4 linked regions of the Homo sapiens genome follow. The protein of the gene in region 1 purifies or fractionates together with the protein of each later gene. This does not show direct contact. Each region holds a gene or a part of one and is shown on either strand. Other genes may lie near its edges.

The links.
Region 2: the proteins of SLC19A3 (region 1) and ATP11B purify together in Homo sapiens (affinity purification with mass spectrometry; one large-scale study listed by BioGRID and IntAct). This does not show direct contact.
Region 3: the proteins of SLC19A3 (region 1) and CACNA2D1 purify together in Homo sapiens (affinity purification with mass spectrometry; one large-scale study listed by BioGRID and IntAct). This does not show direct contact.
Region 4: the proteins of SLC19A3 (region 1) and WARS2 fractionate together in Homo sapiens (co-fractionation; one large-scale study listed by BioGRID). This does not show direct contact.

Annotation. Positions count from the first base shown.
Region 1 is NC_000002.12:227,710,609-227,716,292, forward strand, and holds part of SLC19A3 (thiamine transporter 2), read right to left. Parts: intron 4,017-5,684; exon of another isoform or gene 3,841-4,016; intron 1-3,840. UniProt on the Homo sapiens protein: Mediates high affinity thiamine uptake, probably via a proton anti-port mechanism. Has no folate transport activity. Mediates H(+)-dependent pyridoxine transport.
Region 2 is NC_000003.12:182,798,968-182,804,112, reverse strand, and holds part of ATP11B (phospholipid-transporting ATPase IF), read right to left. Parts: intron 1-5,145. UniProt on the Homo sapiens protein: Catalytic component of a P4-ATPase flippase complex which catalyzes the hydrolysis of ATP coupled to the transport of aminophospholipids, phosphatidylserines (PS) and phosphatidylethanolamines (PE), from the outer to the inner leaflet of intracellular membranes.
Region 3 is NC_000007.14:81,967,669-81,972,813, forward strand, and holds part of CACNA2D1 (voltage-dependent calcium channel subunit alpha-2/delta-1 isoform 1 preproprotein), read right to left. Parts: intron 4,197-5,145; coding exon 4,109-4,196; intron 3,070-4,108; coding exon 3,007-3,069; intron 2,317-3,006; coding exon 2,213-2,316; intron 1,306-2,212; coding exon 1,219-1,305; intron 1-1,218. UniProt on the Homo sapiens protein: The alpha-2/delta subunit of voltage-dependent calcium channels regulates calcium current density and activation/inactivation kinetics of the calcium channel. Plays an important role in excitation-contraction coupling.
Region 4 is NC_000001.11:119,042,545-119,047,689, forward strand, and holds part of WARS2 (tryptophan--tRNA ligase, mitochondrial isoform 1 precursor), read right to left. Parts: intron 4,989-5,145; exon of another isoform or gene 4,861-4,988; intron 3,119-4,860; coding exon 3,038-3,118; intron 1-3,037. UniProt on the Homo sapiens protein: Catalyzes the attachment of tryptophan to tRNA(Trp) in a two-step reaction: tryptophan is first activated by ATP to form Trp-AMP and then transferred to the acceptor end of tRNA(Trp).

The DNA.
Region 1 (5,684 bases):
AGAAAAACGAATCTTACAGAGCATGATCTTCAGCTCCTTCCCCCCCAGTTTTTAGACTATCTATGGACCCCACTCCAAGCTATCTTATTAGCATAAACACGTTATCAAAGAGGGTCATTATGAATAAAAAGACACCTGTTACTCAGGAATTCCCAAAAGTTTTAGCTTAAAGACCAAATACATTTTATGTTATATCAGTTACAGTTTCCAAAAAGCCCACCTCCCAGGCTTTCAACACTGCTAGAGTCAAGCCCTTCCCTAGACAGAGCAAACTCAAAGTCTGATTACTAAAAACAAAAATATTTGCTTTTAGCTGACATATCAGAGCAGACAAACTAATTATGCCTTTTAATCTGCTTATTACTAAAATAGAAGAGAATATAACTTTCAGTAAAACATTCAAATAAAGCAAAGGGCTGCAGTCAGCTTAAGTCAGGGCAAGATGGTCCTGAAGGAAGGCAGGGGAAAGGATTCCAGGGTCTTGCTTAACCACCGTCGTTCTGCTGCAGTCAGAATTAGTGGGTGGTGGCCAGGCGCGGTGGCTCCCGCCTTTAATCCCAGCATTTTGGGAGGCTGAGACAGGCAGATCACCTCAGGTCAGGAGTTCGAGACCAGCCTGGCCAAAATGGTGAAACCCCGTCTCTAATACAAATACAAAAGAATTAGCTGGGCATGGTGGTGGGTTCCTATACTCCCAGCTACTTGGGAGGCTGAGGCACAAGAATCTCTTGAACCCAGGAGGTGGAGGCTGCAGTAAGCCAAGATAGTGCCACTGCATTGTGGCCTGGGTGACAGAGCGAGACTCTGTCTCAAAAAAATAAAATAAAATAAAATAAAATAAAATAATAAAATAAAATAAAAATTGGAAGGTGGTTCCACCAACTTCTAGGGAGTTATTGTATTCTGGCTGTAACTTCATCTTACTTGAAATGCATCTTACTGATCACTGCCTCACTCCATACACAAAAACTAATTTGACATAACAAATACTAACACCACAGCATGCCATCCAGAAGGAAACAGATCTTCGTTACCTAGGGACTGGCACATATTTGAAATAATAAAAAGAATCTTAAAAGAAAAAAAAGATAAATTGCATTTCATCAAAAAGCCACATCTGCTTATCAAGAGGTACTGTTAAGAAACTGAATGGAAAGGAGGCTGGGCACCGTGGCTCATGCCTATAGTCCCAGCATTTTGGGAGGCCGAGGTAGGTGGATTACTTGAGGTCAGGAGTTTGAGACCATCCTGGCCAACATGGCGAAACCCCGTCTCTACTAAAAATACAAAAATTACCCAGGCGTGGTGGCACAAGCCTGTAATCCCAGCTACTCGGGAGGCTGAGGTAGAAGAATCGCTTGAACCCAGGAGGTGGAGGTTGTAGTGAGCCGAGATCCCGCTATTGCACTCCAGCCTGGGCGACAGAATGAAACTCTGTCTCCAAAAAAAAAAAAAAAAAAAAAAAAAAAGCCACATCTGCTTCTCAAGAGGTACTGTTAAGAAACTGGCAAGGGACCAGGTGCAGTGGCTCACGACTGTAATCCCAGCACTTTGGGAAGCTGAAGCAGGAGGGTCACTTGAGCCTGGGAGTTCAAGACCAGCCTGGACAACACCTTTTTTTGTCTGTACAAAAAAATACCACACACAGACACACACACACAAAGGCAAAGAAATTAGAAAGGGAAGCCACAGACTGAAGAGAAAATAGTCTTAAAAGCAATATCTGATAAAAGAATTGTCTCCAAAATAAAGAACCCCTGTAACTCAATAAGAATAGATGAACAAAAGATTTAAATACTTTGCAAAAGATGTGGTTGGCCAAGAGCACATGCAAAGATACTCAACATAAGTAATCAGAAATCCTAAGTTAAGACTAGGAGAGAAAACTAGCACTAGAATGGCTACAGAGGCCAGCATACCAAATGTTGGCAAAGATTTACAGCAAGTGAATCCATATACATTGCTTGTTCGAATGTAAAATGGCACCAACCCTTTGGAAAATCATTTGGCAATCTATCCAAGAATGTTCATATATTTATATTTGTGAAAAAATGAGAAGCAACTAAATGTCCATTAAATGGGGAATGAATAAATAATGATAAATTTTGGCAACCAATACTAATTAGCAATAAAAAGGAGTGAACTACTGCAAATACGTGAATGAACATAAAAAGAAAAATTTGCTGTGCCAAGGAATCCAGACACAAAAAAATGTATGATTTCATTAACATATAAAGTCCTAAAACAAGCAAAACTTATCTGTAGTGATGGAAATCGGATTGGTGGTTGCCTGGGGTGGGAGGTAGGGAAGAGAGTGACTGCAATAGAGCGCAGGGGAACTTCCTGGGGTGACCAAAACACTCTACACCTTGATTGTGGTGATGATTACAAACATTTGTCCAAACTCATGCATTCATACTATACACTTATAATATACATTTTCTTATTTGTAAACCACACTGCTAGGGTTTGAATATCTGTCCTCTTCAAAACTCATGTTAAATCTTAATCCCAGGCTGGGTGCAGTGGCTCACACCTATAATCCCAGCACTTTGAGAGGCTGAGGCAGGATTGCTTGAGGCCGGGAGTTCAAGATCAGACTGGTCAAGATAGCAAGAACACGGTTCTACAAAAAAATTAAGTAAATGACTGGGCATGGTGGTATATGCCTGTAGTCCTAGCTACTGAGAAGCTGAGGCAGGAAAATCCCTTGAGCCCAGGATATCAAGGCTGCAGTGAGCCATGATTGCACCATTGCATTCCAGGTTGGGCTGGACAGTGAGACCCTGTTGTAAAAAAAAAAAAAAAAAAAAAAGAGGGGGTGGGGCTTTTCAAGAGTGATTAGATCATAAGGGCTCTGTGCTCATGAATGAATTAGCTCATTCATGAATTAATGGAGTCAAAGGTTAATGTATTAATGGGTCATCATGGGAGGGGAACTGGTGGTTTTCTAAGAGAAAGCCCTGAGCTTGCAGCCTTAGCCCTCTGACCATGTGATACCTGCGCCACCTTGGGATTCTTTAGAGTCCATATTAGAAAGAAGTGCCCCCTAAACCTTGGACTTCCCAGCCTCCATAACTGTAAGAAATAAAGCTCTTTTCTTTCTAAATTTCCCACGTTCAGGTATTGTTATAAGCAACAGAAAACAGATTAAGAAAAAAAAGATGTACTTCAACAAAGATGATTTGAAAAAAAAACAACAAAACAAATCACTGATACACGGAAGAAAATAAAGCAGTCTCAAACATTATCCTGTGTACAAGAATCCAGATACAAAAAGGACATAGCATGAAGATTTCATTTACGCCAGGTCCAAAACAACCGAAACTACTTCATGCTGATAGAAATCACAACTACGGTCATCTTGGAGGTGGGGGTGGGTAAGAATTGATGGTAAAAGGGCAGGAGGCAATTTTCTGGGTTGATGAAATATCCTATATCTTGATGGGATATAGTTATGTGGGTGTATACAATTATAAACACTTAAAATCTTTGTTTGTATGTAGATTATACCTCAACTTAAAGAAATGCATCCTATTCTCCCTCCTCCAAAGCATTTTACTGTGTACAACTCTCTGTAGCTCTGGACTTTTCTAGGGGTGCAATGACTATTTTAAATTTAAAGTCCACATCAGGGCAAGGCCTCCGTATAATAGGAAAACTGAACAGGATCTTTGAAACTGAGTCTGTCCCAGAACATTTCTGATGAAAACAGTGCCCGTAACGCAAAGCTAGGACAGGGCAATAAACCTTGTAAGTCTGGCCACATATAACATTTTTCAGTTAATACAGATAGAATCTGAATCTCAGAAGCTGAGGCAGGAGGATCCCTTGAGTTACCTGTTTTTTTCTGTGCCCCCAGTTTCTTTCTTTCTAGAACCAAGCTGGCTTCCTGCCTTCAGGTCCAACTTCTGCTCCTTCCTGCTGCCCGCCACTATGAAAATCCCTTTCCATACCCTGGAGTCTCTTGTCCTCCTCCTTCAGACAGAGCTGCCAAGAGCAATAGCTTTATACGCAGAAGCCCATCCACTTCTGGTGGCTTTATGTACTGGGGCCCACCCTCTTCTGCAGCCGATGACATTTGAAATCCCATCCAAAAAAAAAAAAAAAAAAAAGCAGACACCCAGATCCAGATCTTTCTGAAATACAAGTGATTAGAGAGATAAATACATGAATAACACCTTTCCCTGACTATTCTTTTTTTTTTTTTTTTTTTTTTTGAGACAGAGTCTCCCTCTGTCACCCAGGCTGGAGTCTGGAGTGTAGTGGCACAATCTCCCCACTCACCGCAACCACTGCCTCCTGGGTTCAAGCGATTCTCCCACCTCAGTCTCCTGAGTAGCTGAGACCACAGGCACCCGCCACCAGGCCTGGCTAATTTTTGTATTTTTAGTAGAGACAGGGTTTTGCCTTGTTGGTCAGGCTGGTTTTGAACTCCTGACCTCAAGTGCTCCACCCGCCTCAGCCACTCAAAGTGCTGGGATTACAGGTGTGAGCCGCCGTGCCTGGCCTTGCCCTGACTATTCTTACTAAAGTCACCTAATTTAGCTTCTATAGAATTTTGTGCTAAGTGACCTAGACTCTCAAAAAACTACAAAGTAGCCTTATCACCCATCTATAATCCTTTATGTCAAACCCCACACCCCCCCCAAAAAAAAATCTTTGCTGAAATAAAGCATGCCACACAACTTCCAAAGACGTAAACTAGACCCAGATATTCAGTATGTGGGCCAGAATAGTTCTGTTGTTTGTTTTTGTAAGAGCAGAAACAAGTGATATTTTTAAAATTTTATTTTTAGTAAAGATGGGGCTTTGCCATGTTGGCCAGGCTACTCTTGAACTCCTGGCCTCAAGAAATCCGCCTGCCTTGGCCTCCCAAAGTGCTGGGATTACAGGTGTGAGCCACCGCACCCAGCCCAAGTGATCTTTAAGATGCTTCAGATTTTATTTTATCATATATGGTACCATTCCTTTTAATTTGCATGAGGTGTTTGCTGGTAAATTAATCATTTCCTTCCAAATTCTGTTTATTCTGTTATGTCTATGTTCAGATCAATCTAGTCTTAGGGAGAGCAGGAGGAATATGCCTAAGAAAACCATAAAACTAAGAAAAACATAAAACGGCTTAGAAAGTCAACTGAGCCCAGCCTGGGCAAAATAGCGAGACCTCACCTCTATAAAAAATACAAAAATTAGCTAGGCATGGTGGTGTGTGCCTATAGTGCCAGGTAGTTGGGAGACTGAAGTGGGAAGATTGCTTGAACAGGGAAAGTCAAGGCTGCGGTGAGCCGAGATCCCAGCCACTGCACTCCAGCCTGGGCAACAAGAGCGAGACTCCGTCTCAAAAAAAAAAAAAAAAAAAAAAAATTTCAAAAACCCCAAACAAAACAAAACAAAAAAGGAAAGTCAGCTGACATCTAATCCTTGAGATGCAGTGAAAGTTTCTGATTAAATGCACTGAGAGAAGGTGGTGTTGTAGGGAAAAAACTGGATTAAAGAAAAATTAGAGGTCATTTGAGCTATTTTACAACTCTGTAAATTTTAACAACTGATGGCAATGTTAAGTAATTATTGTCTATAGACATGCAAATAAGGTTTATCCCATGAAGGACAACAGTCTTCCTTTCCCCCATGGAAAACCAGTTTCAATATTCCTGATCTATATTTCATTATTCAATATTCCT
Region 2 (5,145 bases), on another chromosome or scaffold:
ATGAAGAAACTTAACTTCAATGCAAAGCTAATCAAAATCTAGAACTATTTTCCATGGAGCTAGACAAACACTGTAAGTGGCATATGGAAGAATAAAGTTCAGTATAATTGTAAAAAGAAAAAAAAAGAAGGTGGGGGTTCTGCCTGCCAAATACCAAGACTTATCATTAAAATACTATAATTAAGACAGAGCATTATTTGTGCACCAAGAAATGAATGAAATGGAATACAGAATCTAGAATGAGACCAAGGTATATGAAAGAGAATGCTGGTATATGACAGAGTATGTGAAAGAGAATGCTGGTACGTGTCCTAAATGTGTCACTTATGACAGAGAAGGCAAACAACACAGACTCGTGGAGGAAGGATGCCTCATTCAATAAACAGCATTGACACAACTTTCTATACGGGAGAAAACAAATTCCCTTCCTTATTCCATATACAAAAATTGATTCCAGGTATCTTTAAAGATCTAAATGTTAAAAAACTAATTTTAAAACAATTTGAAGAAAACGCTGGAAAAACAGCTTTATGATCCTAGTATAACAAAGGAATTGTCAAATATGTAATAAAAAGCAGAAATCATATGTCTAATAAATTTACCTACAAATAAATTTAAACTTTCTGTATAAAAAAAGATACCATAAACTAAATTAAATACACGGAACAGACTAGAAGATATTTACAACATATACAACAAAGAATTGGCATCCAGGCTATAGCAAGAATTAGGAAAGGCCAAACTACCCAATGGAAAACGGGCAATCTATTCATGTGAATGAAATTGAGGATACCTGCATCTCACCAGCAATCAAGAAAATGCAAATTAGAACAAAATGAGACACTATTTCACACCCATCAGACTGGTACGTTTTTTCAAGTCTGACAGTACAAAGTGTTGAGCAAGATGTAGGGAAAGGAGAACTCTGTTTTAGAAAATACTTTGGCAATATTTAGTAACAGTCATAATGTACGTGACCCATGACCCAGCAATTCCACTTCTGGGTATTTAACTTCAAAATAAATAAATAAATAAACAATAATAGTCATTGTAACACTTTTTGTAACAGGAAAAAATTGGCAACAATCCGAATATACATTAGAAAAAAAGAACCCCCCATAAGATTGGCTGGGGCAGGGATTACTTCATTTTGGTAGTTCCAAAGCCTAGCAACAAATATGCTATCACAGAAAACTAATTCACTTACAGAAAATGACTCAATTCATCAATACATGAGAAAGAAATGGTGTCACCTAAAAGGGGATGCAGAGTTGAGAAATGGCTTTTGTTAAATGGAGAACAAAACTAAAGCAGACAAAATCCCTTCCTTCCTGAGATAAATGAGACTAGCAAGTTTTGGAGTAGGTTAAATAGCATTAAGTGCTGAGAAATCAAGCAAGGAAAGGCAACAGGGAAGTAATGGGGAGGGTCAGAACATTATACTGAATGGCTGGAAAAAGCTTCACTCATGAATAACGCAATATTTGAATAAAGACTTGAAAGGAGCGAAGGAGCCAGCAGATGTCTGCAGGAAGAACATTCCAGGTAGAGGTAGTAACAGTCAGGACAAAGCTCCTAAAACTGAAGTATGCCTGGGACTTCTGAATTGCAATAAGGCTAGTGTGAATAAAGAGTGAGAGAATAGTGATGGAGGATGAGAAATGGATTGGAAGAAGTGTAGGGGTTGGCATACAGATCAAGCAGAGACTTTGGCTTTTACTCTGAACAAAAGAGCAAGCACTTGGAAAATCTTAGGCAGAGGAATTATATGATCTAACCTGTTTAATAAGATCACTCTGGTGGGTATATTGAAAACAGACTGCAAGGACAGAAGGGGAGAAACAATGAGATGAACTAGGAAGCTTTTGCAATAATCTAGGTAAGAGGTAGCAGTAGTTTAGTTGAGGGTGGTGGCAGAGAAAGACGAGAGAAATGGTTCTGGATATATCATTTTTAGCAACAACAAAAAGGGAGATACGATTTGCTCCCCAAACACTTAGATGTATTCATGTTATAAGTAAAACACTTTTTAAAATGCATTTTTTAAAAAATTGACAAAAATTCTGTATATTTATGGTGCACAACATGATGTTTTGAAGCAAAGCATTTTTTGATTCATGTGTCTTTCTTTGATTTCTTCTCCCCACAGAGGTATCCATAGAAAAAGAGCAGTTGACTTTTAAAGAACTACATCTCCTGCTTAGAATTTGACAGATTCTTAGTAAATTTATTAGCAATACATATTATGCATGTACCTTTTATTATTAATATAACTGAATTAAATCAAGAGTTAAGGGGAGAGTTTTACATTAACTTATATTAATAATCACTGATGTAACTGACATAAAATAAAATTTCTACACTTGTAAAAATAAGAATTTGAGAATGGAAGGAAAGGAAGAAGCGATTTTGGAGATAAATACAGAAATATTTATGGGTAAAATTATATAATGTCTGGGATTTGCTTCAAAATCACTAAAGGGAGTGAGGATAGTGGGTGGGGGGAATAGATAAAACAAGATTGGTCATGTGCCGATAACTGTAAAAGTTGGGTAAAGGATAAATTATACCATTTGCCCAACTTTATACCATAAAGGGGCTCATTATACCATTATCTCTACTTTTGCAGGTGATTGAAATTTTCTATAACATAATGCTTAAAGAAAGAATAAAAATAACCTGTACCAGCTTTACCGGCTTCACACAGTAAGAATAAGCTACATATATACAACATCTGTTTCTGTTCCTAACTTTTCCAAAATGTACGTGAATGAATGAATGATTGATACCTATGCATATCATCCTATTCTTCCTCCTTTCCTGAGGGGGAACTTCACTTCCAATTAAAATGTGGAGACAGACACAGCTTAACTAATTAATATCCTTAATTTGGTATTTCATCTAAATTTTGGACAATCTAATAGTTTTAAAGAGAAACAAGTATGATTATCTGCATAAGCCATAACTTAATGTTAAGGAGGATAAACTACATGCTAAAAATTTCAAAGGAAGGCCTGGTGGGATGGGTCACACCTGTAATCCCAGCACTCTGGGAGGCCGAAGTGGATTGATCATCTGAGGTCCAGGGTTCGAGACTGGCCTGGCCAACATGGCGAAACCCTGTCTCTACTAACAATACGAAAAAATCCGTTGGGCATGGTGGGACGTGCCTGTAATCCCAGCTACTCAGGAGGCTGAGGCAGGAGAATCACCTGAATCTGGGCGGGGCTGGGGGGGGTGGGGGGCGGAGGTTGCAGTGAGCGGAGATCGCGCCACTGCACTCTAGCCTGGGTGACAAAGCGAGACTGTCTTAAAAAAAAAAAAAAATCAAAAGAATTTGCCAATACCATGTATAGGATAAGAAAATACGAAAATTAAAAATTGTACAATTTTAAGTGAGCCAGTCAGCAAAAAAATTTGTGTTCTAGTTTTCTCCTAAGCACACCCAAGAGTCAAACAGTTCCCTCAGAGCCATTCCCAAGTGCTGAGAAGTAACAGAAATTCAATGCATGTCATTCACAATACAGGTGAATGTTTACTGAATGCATTATAACCATATATGCAAAAAAATTAAATACAAACATCGTCTGGGCACAGTGGCTCACACCTGTAATCTCAGCACTTTGGGAGGCTGAGACAGGAGGATCGCTTGAGTCCAGGAGTCTGAGACCAGCCTGGGAAACATAGTGAGACCCCCACCTCTACAATTTTTTTTTTTTTTTAATTAGCTGGGTGTGGTGGCAAATGCCTGAAGTCTTAGCTACTCAGGAGGCTGAGGCAGGAGGATCATTTGAGCCCAGGAGTTTGGGGTTGCAGTGAGCTGTGATCACATCACTGCAGTACAGCCTGGGAGACAAAGTGAGGCCTTATCTCAAAAAAAAAATTATATATATAATTTCTAACTTGAAGTATTGGCTTAAAAATAAGTCTCATAGTATTTCCCATATAAATATCCAATCAAGAATGTTTTTGTTTCTTTCTTTTTTTTAATTTTTATTTTTTAGAGACAGGGTCTTACTCTGTCATCCAGGCTGGAATGTACTGGCACAATCATAGCTCACTGCCGCCTTGAACTCCTGTGTTCAAGCAATACTCCTGCCTCAGTCTCCCAAGTAGCTGGGACTAAAGGCAGGCACCGCCATGCCCAGCTAATTTTTAATTTTTGTAGACACAGGGTCTCACTATGTTGCCCAATCTGGCCTTAAACTCCTGGCCCAAAGCAATCCTCCTGTGTGTCTCCCAAAGTGCCGAGGTTACAGGTTTGAGCCACCACACCTGGCCTAGAATGTTTTTCTTATACTAAATTTTATAACAGAGAAACTCCAGGAAAAAAAGCAAAATAAAGAATATCTGAGAATAAAATCTTTCAACTATGTTTATAAACTCAAATCTTGAGTTTCATTTTGATATTTTTTAAAAAATACACGTTTACTTCCTTTTGAGAATAAAAAAATTAAAATTAAACAATAAAAATGCACATTTCTAGTAAAAACTAAGCTAATTATGAATATTATCTTGCTTAGAATGATCAGCACTCGGGCCGGGCATGGTGGCTGACGCCTGTAATCCCAGCACTTCCGGAGGCCGAGGCGGGCGGATCATGAGGTCAGGAGATCGAGACCATCCTGGTAACACGGAGAAACCCCATCTCTACTAAAAATACAAAAAATTAGCTGGGCGTGGTGGTGGGCGCCTGTAGTCCCAGCTACTCCGGAGGCTGAGGCAGGAGAATGGTGGGAACCCAGGAGGCGAACTTGCAGTGAGCTGAGATCGCGCAACTGCACTCCGCCTGGGCGAAAGAGCGAAACTGTCTCCAAAAAAAAAAAAAAAAGAAAGAAAGAAAGATCAGCACTCAGACAACTGCAGAAACAAAATGAAGAATAAACAGCATGGCTAAATCTAGAACCCCACAGCAGTCGATGTTGACTTGATAAATTATTTCCAAGGGACCAGATGCAGTTAGTCTATCAGGCAGCTTCTAGTCTCTTAGATATAATGCAGACCAACACTCTGAAAATAGAAAACTCACAGAAAAAAAGCCTGGGTAAAGTCATAAAGTCCTTAGAATCAAAAACTTTCTTGAATCTGCCTATGCCAGGCATTATATATTGTTACCATAATCTAAAACAATGCTGTAGAACAGAA
Region 3 (5,145 bases), on another chromosome or scaffold:
AAATTAATTTGAATTAATTCAAAGGTATAATTAGATGTAATACAACCTTTGCAATATGACAGTTATTTTGATAGCAAGTATCAGACTATAGTTTATTACAGAAGTTTTAGTTTTGTGTTCATTAAGAAATAATGCTAATAGCTCTTAAACTATTACATAAATTGTAACATATTCACAAAAGAGTGTATTCATTAGCCACAACCTGACCAATTAACTAATACAATAAGCTAAATAAAAAACAGTAGTGTCAGGAGAGCCTCATAAACTTGAGGTCATTCAAACGGTATATTTTAAGATGTTTCCCTAACCCCACCAGTGCTTGCAGTAGGTGCTTAATAAATCTTTGCTGAAAGAGTGAACAGATGAATGGATGAGTAGGTGGGTTAGTAGGAGAGTGGGTGAATAAATGAATGGCTGAGAGAATAACTGATTTAGTAAGTAATTGAGCAATTGAGTGAATGAAGGAATAGGTAAGTGAGTTAGTGAGTAAGTGATGGAGTGAATTCATGTAATAGATCCGCTGATGGGGTAAAGCTGTCCTCAGGAGCAGGAAGGCTCAAAATACTCTCCTTTAAAACTTCAAACACTGAATCATACAATCAAAAAAACTAATAGCTTTTACTTTATTGTATTCACTCACTCTAGCCCACTTCCGATCCTCATTAATGCTCACTTTTACTATGTTTGTTTACTTGCCTATTTTTCCAAAAAGTCATTTTTCTATATATTTTATAGCAAGTTTTTAACTGAGCCCTACCTAATTCACTTTAACAGACGCCTACTAGAATATAGTATAAATATGCCATATTTATCTTTTCCCTCAGGGCTGGAAACTTAACTTTTTTGTACAAATATGTAACTCCTTGGCCATATAACTTTGTACGTATTTTAAAGTATTAAGAGAGACTTCTGGAGGTGGGTTGCTAATCCAACATTAAAAATTTTGATTATTATACTAAATTGATTCCATCAATTTGTGTCAGAGTATAAACATACACACTGTTTTGAAAATTCCTCAAATCTATGTAGTATCAATTTGATTTTATCCCAACTTCAGAGGTAACTAGTCATATTTTATTTAATTTTTTTAAGTGTGCATGCCTTTATTTTGTTTGACACCTTTTGATGACCTTCTTGATAAACATTGCCAGTTTATAATATAAATGCCAAGTAACATTTAATTTTGATTGTGTTTTTGTATTTAATATTTATCCTTACCTGCAGGTTTAAGAAGTTTCCCTTGAATATATATTTCTACAGCTTTGCTTACCATAATGCCCGATTCATAGGCACCAGGTCCACTTTCTAAAAAAAAAATAAATAAATAAAACACCTATCAAGATATATTGAATAATAATATTGATTTTCCGTCATTAGATACAAATGGATAGTATTTTGCTTAAAAATTCTAGCATCTACAAACTATAAAATGTTTGTGCTCTCCTTCCTCTCTTCTTCCGTTGTATACACTAGGCTAACTGGTATATCCATGAATTGGTTTGTATTAATTGATTCGGGGACATTAATTAGCTTGGTTGCATCTGCTTTCACAACATAATGAATACATGCCAAATCTCTACTTCACAACATTTGTTAAAATATTAAGTAGTTCTGCTGAAGTGAAGTGGAAAGATTGATCCTGGATGCATAAAACTGACTTTGTCTTTTATAAGACGTATGTCACTGGGCAAAACTTTGAAATTCTCTGAACTTGTTTCCCCATTTAGGAAAATGAAGGTAAATACTACCTATGTGCAAAGATGTTCAGGGATTAAATTACAAGGTTTTTGGGAAATAAGTCAATAAAATATTTTAAAAGATAAGCTATTATTAATTGTATAATTATATTTTATAATACTGATAAAATGTAATTAATCAATGGAATTACTCTATTTAATTCCTTAAATGTTTTTCAATACATTTTCAGTTGTAATATGAGGGATTATCTACATGTGTTTCTATTTCTTATGCATGCCTAACAGATATGCTATCTCTAAATTACTGGAAGACTGTTTGCTGTGTATGCATTTTGCTTCTTCAACTAAATGATGTTTCTTTTCTATTTTCCTAATGCCTTGCAAATACTCTATTTTTAATGATGACTATTCTGAGTAGTTAACATAAAATGTAGTGATTTGGGGGGAGAGCAGATAGTAGCAGTAATTTATTATTTAAAAAATTGAGAAAAGCTGAATTCCAAAGCAATACTTACTGTTAAAGTAGGGAGCAGTGAAAACATAGTTATCATTATCTAGGCTCCTTTTATAGAAGCTGTCCTCATATGTCTCTGGGTTTTCTTGCCAATTTTCTCCAGCCCTAAGGAGGAAATGGCTCATCATTTGTATTCTTTAATCTACCTGATAACCTACTTTATCCTATGTGGACTTGCTGAGCTTTACAGATACGCCTACATCTCAGGTATGTCTAAAGAAGTTAGTGGTAATTGATAGCATAACTGATACTCATTACTGAGCAATGCATCAGCATAGCACTAAATTAAGAATCAGAAAAAGCTAACTCCTAGTTTTACTCCGTTGTTTACTAGTCAGGTAACAGGACAAGTAAGTTAATAGGTCAATTAATGTTAGTAAGCATTGGTGCCTACTCAGCCTACTTCATGGACTGTTACGAAGATAATAGAGATAAGATGCATCAAAGAAGAGTGAAAGATAATAAAGTGCTACATAAATATTGCTGATTGGTTATAATCATTGTGTTCATTTCACTGGTTTAGCTTGTATCTACAAAGAGAAAAATCTCTTTAAACGTCTCTTAAATGTTGTAATAAACATATTTGGCAAGCAAAAACATCATTGAAGAATTTTATAATGTCATTTTTCAGAGAAATAAAATCTTTTAATAATGTAAATACTGTAAACAATGGCTCCAATGTAATCTAATGGCAATCAGTTTATTTGAAGAATGGCTTCCTTAAGCAGTAATGTACAAATCCTTGGCGCAGTCTTTTGTAATGTACTTGTTTTTACAGATGTTATTTGAACTTACTCTTTGGGATAAACTCTGGTAATCCCACCATCAGTCACAACAAATCGTGCTTTCACTCCCTTGCTGAAACAGAAGACAAAACAAGGAAATGTTCTATTGAACATATTCTAAAAAACAAAGTTAGGTGTTGGTGATACAAAGAGAAGTAAGTTTAGGAAGTAAAGGAAATATATCAATAGATACACAACTATGTTTTAATAATTTAAATATCTATTAAATTTGTACTTGAAGGATGTTTAAGGAAGACATCTCATAGGAAATAATGACTGAGGTGCATTTTGAACATGGAGTATGAATTGACAGCAATGACACAGAAAGCAGGAAGGTATCACTTGTAGAGAGGAATGTATACATAAGGGAAAGCTACCAGAGATGGCTGGTGTTTGGTATAGAAAAAAAACGTAAGACAAAAGGAGAGAAACAGTAAGAAGTAAAGTTTCAAGTGCAAGTTCCTCAATGGTCAGCTAATGAATGATTTTGAATTCCATCTTAGAGAGCTTCACCTGTATCTTGAACTTAGAACTGCATTTTAGGAGTTAGATTCTGGCCAATATGAGTTGTATGGAGAATTGTCTAGAAGCTGCATGTGGAGGAATGGAGAACACTAAAGGCAGAAAAATCAGTTGCTGTGATTTCTTAGAAATGGGATCTTAGGGCCTTCATTATGAGGTAGAGAAGAAAACATTGCTAGGAGAAATATTTAGCATTTAGTGACTGAAAATGGGGTGGAGAAGAGATTTTAAATAAGAATCATACTCAGATTTTCTCAACTGGATGTATGGTAATGCTATTAGAAACCCAAATAAACACTGACTAGAAATCCTACTTTAGCACAAACAGAAACACACAATCATGCCCATTTAATTTGGTGTATTCACCCTGAAGTGTATGTGCATGAAAAGTTGAGTAATAGCAGACATTAGTACTGAAAAACACCCACAACTGAAAATGCAAGTTGTCAACAACTGTATAGTGATTTTCTTGAGAAATATTAAACATTATTAATGAACTGTAAATTTATGAGATTCATACCCAATTTCCACAGGAGAAACTAAATTGAAATGCAGAATACATATTTTTATTAATAAGAACAAATACTTACATATTTTTCTGCTTACTCCAGTAATTTTGGACAAGTTCATTTGTAAAGCCTGCATCAAGCAAGACTCTATTAATCAAATCCGCGTTACCTAACACAGAAAAAGATCATCAGTTACACTCACATTTCTAAAATTATGATCATAATGAAAAATATATTTTCTATTTCCAAAAGCAATTTAGAGTAGATATTTCTATGAATTTTAAAATATATTCCACATTCATTTTCTTTGTAATTTTAATATTGTTCATCTTGCCTCACAGTTTTTCAGGAAATGAATGGATTTAGTAGTAGAAAAATCAATTCTAAATGAGCCAAATTATTTTGTAAACTTTATCAAAATAAGAAATAAGCTATGTTAAGAAACAGGAAATAGTCCTTCTTTTGTGTTTTTGTTTATTTCTGTATGGTAGCATGGCGATTCCCAACCATCATAATTTTATGACAATTTAATGTATACACACATAAAATTTTATATATGTATATAAAATTTATATATATAGAAACAGAACTACCACTGAAATTATCAAGTAAAAACATTCAACAAAAAGTTACTGTCTACTTTCACTTTCATTTGTTATAAGAAAAGCTATTTTCATTCTTTTCTATCACAAATATCAAAACATAGGATAATCTTGGAGTAAATAAGACTATGAAAAATTCAGTGCCGCATATCGAGGAGCAAGGAATGGAATGAGCATCACAGAGCAGTACAATCCCAAGAATGTTTTTGAAATCTACTGGTATTGGTCAAAGAACCAATACCTAAGTAGATAATAGGTTGTCATTTCTAGAATAACTGAAGTGCATATTAGCCCAAGTTTAAAGATAATTGAGGAAACAGGTGATGAGGATCAAAGGCCAATTATTATGTATTCTTAAACAAAAACCTCTGCCTTCTTCCCATTCTCCTTGTTCCTCTAAACCCATTAAGCTCTGAAATACCCTAACAGGTACCCTCTGAAATTGCACATTTACGACAAAATTTGACTTTTTCAGATAAAGAATATATGTTCTTAACATCCTATTACTATACAACA
Region 4 (5,145 bases), on another chromosome or scaffold:
GGAATAAGGTGAGTGCATTTCATCACTGCCCCTTTAAGGGATCCTGCACTGCTACTATTTTTTATTTATTTTATTAAAGTAAGGATACAGGCATTTATTGGTTCCAAATCGGATAAATTCCAGATTTCACAGACAAGGCCACAAACCGTCATGAAATTAAATCTCTACAAATTAACATGAGTTAATATCAAAAGCCCTATTGTTTATACATGGAGACTTTCCAAAAAGTCTCACAGCATGCCACTGAGAAAACTGGAATGTTCCCTTAAAATCACATTTAAATAACAAAAAACAAAAAAGTCATGGCATTTAAAAAATAAAAGTAAGTGAGAGAAATATTCATCTAACCAATCCTAATGACCTGTCTTGATTCTTAGGTGATTAAGCATGCTGAAGCAGTGAGGGTCAAGTGACCCAATGAGCAGTACAGGTTGTATAGACCAAAACAGTTCCTTAATGGAGAAGTTGATGGAAACACCTGAGATGATGTTAGAAACATTTAATAACTGGGGGGGGCAATAGATGCTGATTATAAACTACTACTGTGTACTCACTAAACATGATCCTAATGATGCTAACTCCCTTGCTGTGGCTGCACATTGCTGACATGTCGTTTGATTCTCTGAGTAGAGCTACTTATTAGATGGCAATATTCTGTGCAGTTTCAAGGCCTAAGGTATAGCATCTCTTGTAAAATAAATGGATACTTTGGTGTGTAGACAAATCTTACTCATTGAGTTAATCTGAATCATTTCCCTCAAGTCTGATTATTTCCAAATGAACTGGGCAACTGAATTTATAAACTTGTTTTATTCCAGGGACCAAGCTCATGAGCTTACAAACTTGGGATACCCCTACCAAGGTGCAGACATATTTTTTAAGGCTCAGTCTGAAAATACAACAGCTTCTCTCCTTAGCCATCTTAATTTTGGTGTTTCATAATTTAGTTACAAACTTAACTTTTCTGAGTATACTTCAAGTGGTTTCTGGCTTATAGCAACCAATGCTCTAGGCCATTCAAAGGAAATTTCAATGTTTGAACATACAATTTCTTCACTACATCCCCTAATTACAAAGTTCATGATAAAGGCTAGTTCACAATTATCACCAGGTAAAGATAATGAAAGTTTAATTTGGAAACGTGCAAATTGAAGAAGAACCCAATTTTTAAAAGTTGCCATCACATTCAATTTATAGCCTTTTCGTATTAGCATAATGGACCTTGAAATTACAAGGGAGAGGGAAAATGTGGAGAGCATTAATATTTATTGAGTGCCTATTATGTGCTCCAGATGTTTTACATATATGTTACTCATTAATCCTCTAAATAACCCTGACCTCAGCAACCCTCACCCCACCCTTCTGTGCCACTATTCCACCTTTTGCTGTCCCAATGGAAACCAGGCTAGATGCCTTTATCAGATCCTCCTATAGCACTGGAATCCTGTACTCAGAGCACTTCTTACACTTTCTTATTACTTGTTTAATTGTCTTTTCCCAAACAGACTATAAGTCTCACGAAGGGGGTTACTTCTTATTGACTGCTATATCTCTAGCACCTATTATGACATAAGACTCACAGAAGATATCACTAGTATTTAATTAGTATTAATGAAGGAATCACCACAGAAGACAGTAACATATCTGAGGATAAGACTGGGATTTGAAATTCATGTATTTCCTACAAACAAGCAATTATATACTAATGGAAAGGCTTTTCCAGAATATCAGTACATGCACTAGTAATATACTAGCAGGAGATCTTTAGATGCTGTTTTAAAGTGGGAATAGTTCCTATTAGATTAGTATTCAGTTCCTATAAAAAGGATTTCAACATTACACTTAATGGTAGAATACTATGGTACAATGGGAAAGTATTGCCTAAAACCAAAATATGGCAGATAACATTATGAAACTTTGTTTCTAATTTGTGGCAAGTAATGAATCTGCAGCATTACTAGTACCATCTTATGTATTAAGTGTCTTAGTCCACTCAGGCTGCTATAACAAAATACCCAGCTAGGTGGCTTATAAACAACAGAAATTTATGTCTCATAGTTCTGGAGGCTGGGAAGTCCAAGATTAAGGCAAAGTCAGTGTCTGGTGAGGAACCTTGTTCATGGATAGTGACTTCTAGCTCTGTCCACAGATGCTGTCAGGAGCAAGCGGTGTCTCTAGGGCCTCTTTAACAAGAGCACTAATCTCACTCATGAGGGTCCCACCCTCAAGATCTAATCACCTCACAAAGGCCCTACCTCCTAATACCATCATCTTGGGAGTTAGGTTTCAACATATGAATTCTGAGGGAACACATTCAGACCATATCATTTAGGCACTGTCACTTTAAAGCTTTATCTATTTCTTTCTGTAGCATGTGTGAAGGCTTCTGAAGACCAGCTTTTGAGGAAACCAATGGCCCTGAAAATACCTCAAAAGAAGCTTGAAATTGAAATTAGTGTTGACGTAGTTGGGGGCTACCTACCCTGGGGTTATCCGACTGCAAAAATAAATGGAAGTAAAGTACTATGAATTATCCAATTTATCTTTCTTGGTTGAACTTCTTACAAAAAGTATAGCCCTAATTATTCTGTGAGTTTGAACTGTTGCCTGGACTCAACTTGTTTAAATGTTAAATAAAATATGTTGTCTCTTCTCTCCACAATGAAAACATTCTTTCCTTACTGCCAGTTAATTCCAGTGGAAATGGGAGGCAACCTCAGAGTCTAGTAATCTACAATCTGTGATTGTTTATTAACTATAATGTGGTTGTTCAAAGTCATTACCAAGTCTATCCAAAGGTAACTCTGATTCAACTGTACACAGATAAAAACAATGAACCTAATTTTTAAGTCAGGAGGAATCTTGGAAAATCCTTTTATTTTCCTTTTAATACCCTGAAGCAGGGAGGTTAAAGATGATGTTCCAACCATTAGTGAGTGGCAGACCAGGGAGGAGAGTAAACTCAGGATTCCCAGAGCCTAACAGGAAGGGAAAAATAGCTTCTTGTCTGTTTATTAATCAGATTACTGGCATTTACCTTCCACTGATGTAAATGTTGTAATCGAGGTAGTCTGACCATGCAGGAAAGGATCCAACTTAATTGTGTGTGTTCAGACACCTAAAGAAATAAAATAGAACATTAGTAAAGGTGGCCAGTGTTTTCTTGCATATAAGAAGAACTAAGTAGTAAGTATTACCCTAAATGTCTGAAAATACCCCAAATTAAGGTTATTATAAGAACAGGTGAAGGGGGCTTAGTTCTGATTCATGAAGCATAGACTCTTAGGTGAAGAAAAAAATCATACAAGCTAACTGATTTGGTTATTAATCTAGTGTTTAAGTCTACTCCACAATACCCCACCAGATTCTGCTTCAACATCTTCAGTGAGAAAGTTTCATGATGTCCTGAGGCATCTGTTCTATCTGTAAAAAGCCAAGCTTATTAAGAAGGCACACACACACTCTCTCTCTCTCTATCACACACTCACATACTCACACACACTCACACACTGGTTCCAAGCCTCTCTAAATAACTTCTAAATACATCAAAGCAGCTATAGTACTTTACATATAAGTGGTGGAAAAAGGTACTGGACTTAACATTAAAGATTGAATTCTTTAGATATAGGGTAACTTGAAAGTTAGAGATCACTTTATCATTCCATCACCCCAAAAGGTATTTTTATAGTTTCTACTTCCTCCTCTCCCTCCTCTTTTTCATCTTCCTCTCCTCCTTTTCTGTTTTTTTTTTTTTTTTTTTTTTTTAAGAAGAAGTCTAATCAGCAAGAAAATATAAACTTTCCCCAATTTTTTTTTTTTTTTGAGACAGAGTCTCACTCTGTCGCCCAGGCTGCAGTGCAGTGGTGTGATCTCAGTTCACAGCAACCTCCGACTCCCAGGTTCAAGCAATTCTCTGCCTCAGCCTCCTGAGTAGCTGGGATTACAAGTACCTGTCACCACATCCGGCTAATTTTTTTTTTTTTTTGTCTTTTTAGGAAAGACAGGGTTTCACCATCTTGACCAGACTTGTCTTGAACTCCTGACCTCGTGATCCACCCACCCCAGCGTCCCAAAGTGCTGGAGTTACAGGCGTGAGCCACTGCGCCCAGCCCCAAATTTGTTTGTTTCAACCAAATTTAATCAAGCTACCAAACCTGATGACCTAGAATTTAAGGCCTATGCATCCCGTTTCTTTACTCTGGGGATTACAAGCCCTTCATCAACTGTGGCTTTTTTTTTTTTTTTCATCCACATGATTTCCTTAAAAAGCAGAGACTGCTGCCAACTCTGAAAAGTGGCCCCAAATGTGTTCTTTGTGGGTTTTGCAAAAAGAACATAAAGGAGTGGAGCTGAATCAGCCCAGGCCTGTTCTACTAACAAGGAATCGCCATCTGTTGTAAGATAGTTTCTCATTTTTTTCCTCAAGTTATAGAGAGGGAAGAGTTGTTTTTCACGTGTTTGATAAGGAATCACTTTTAAAGTTTTGCAAGTCCCTGGGCTGAATCTGTCATCTTTCTTCCAAGAGGCATTTGGGTTTCATTCAGGGCAGTGACATTGACACACTGTCCATGCAAATTGCTAACTGCTGCTGTAAACAAATAGCTATCAGACAAAAACAGAAACTAACCCTGGATGTAGGCAAGAGGACTAGAGTTGCTTCCAATCACCAAGGAAAATACATTCCCATTAGAAGTAATAAAACAAGAGCTGTTTTTCTGGCATGAAGAAGTAGGAGAGAATTTTTTTTTTCTTCTTTACTGAATTGGAAGAAAGGAATGAAAACACAGATAATAACCATGGATATGTGGAAGGAGACAAGATGACGCCTCTTTAACTCTGATTCAAATGCTTAGCTTTGGTGATACGCAAAAAGCTACCACTATGTCTCCACGAAGCTGAGTATTTTCCTTGGAGTAGCTTTTTATTTGGACATATGGAATGAAACTTACTTAATATTCTGCAGAGATCTTCCTGGTGTTTCCAAAATGGTGAGCATAAAATTAATTCAAATTATCTTCATACAGAAAAAGTAGGTAAAAGGTCAATGGCAATTAATTTTTTACAATTCATTTTTAATAATTATATAAGAAGGGTAGGATACTTCAGGATTTGGTTGTCTTACTTCATTCATATTCATGACAATTG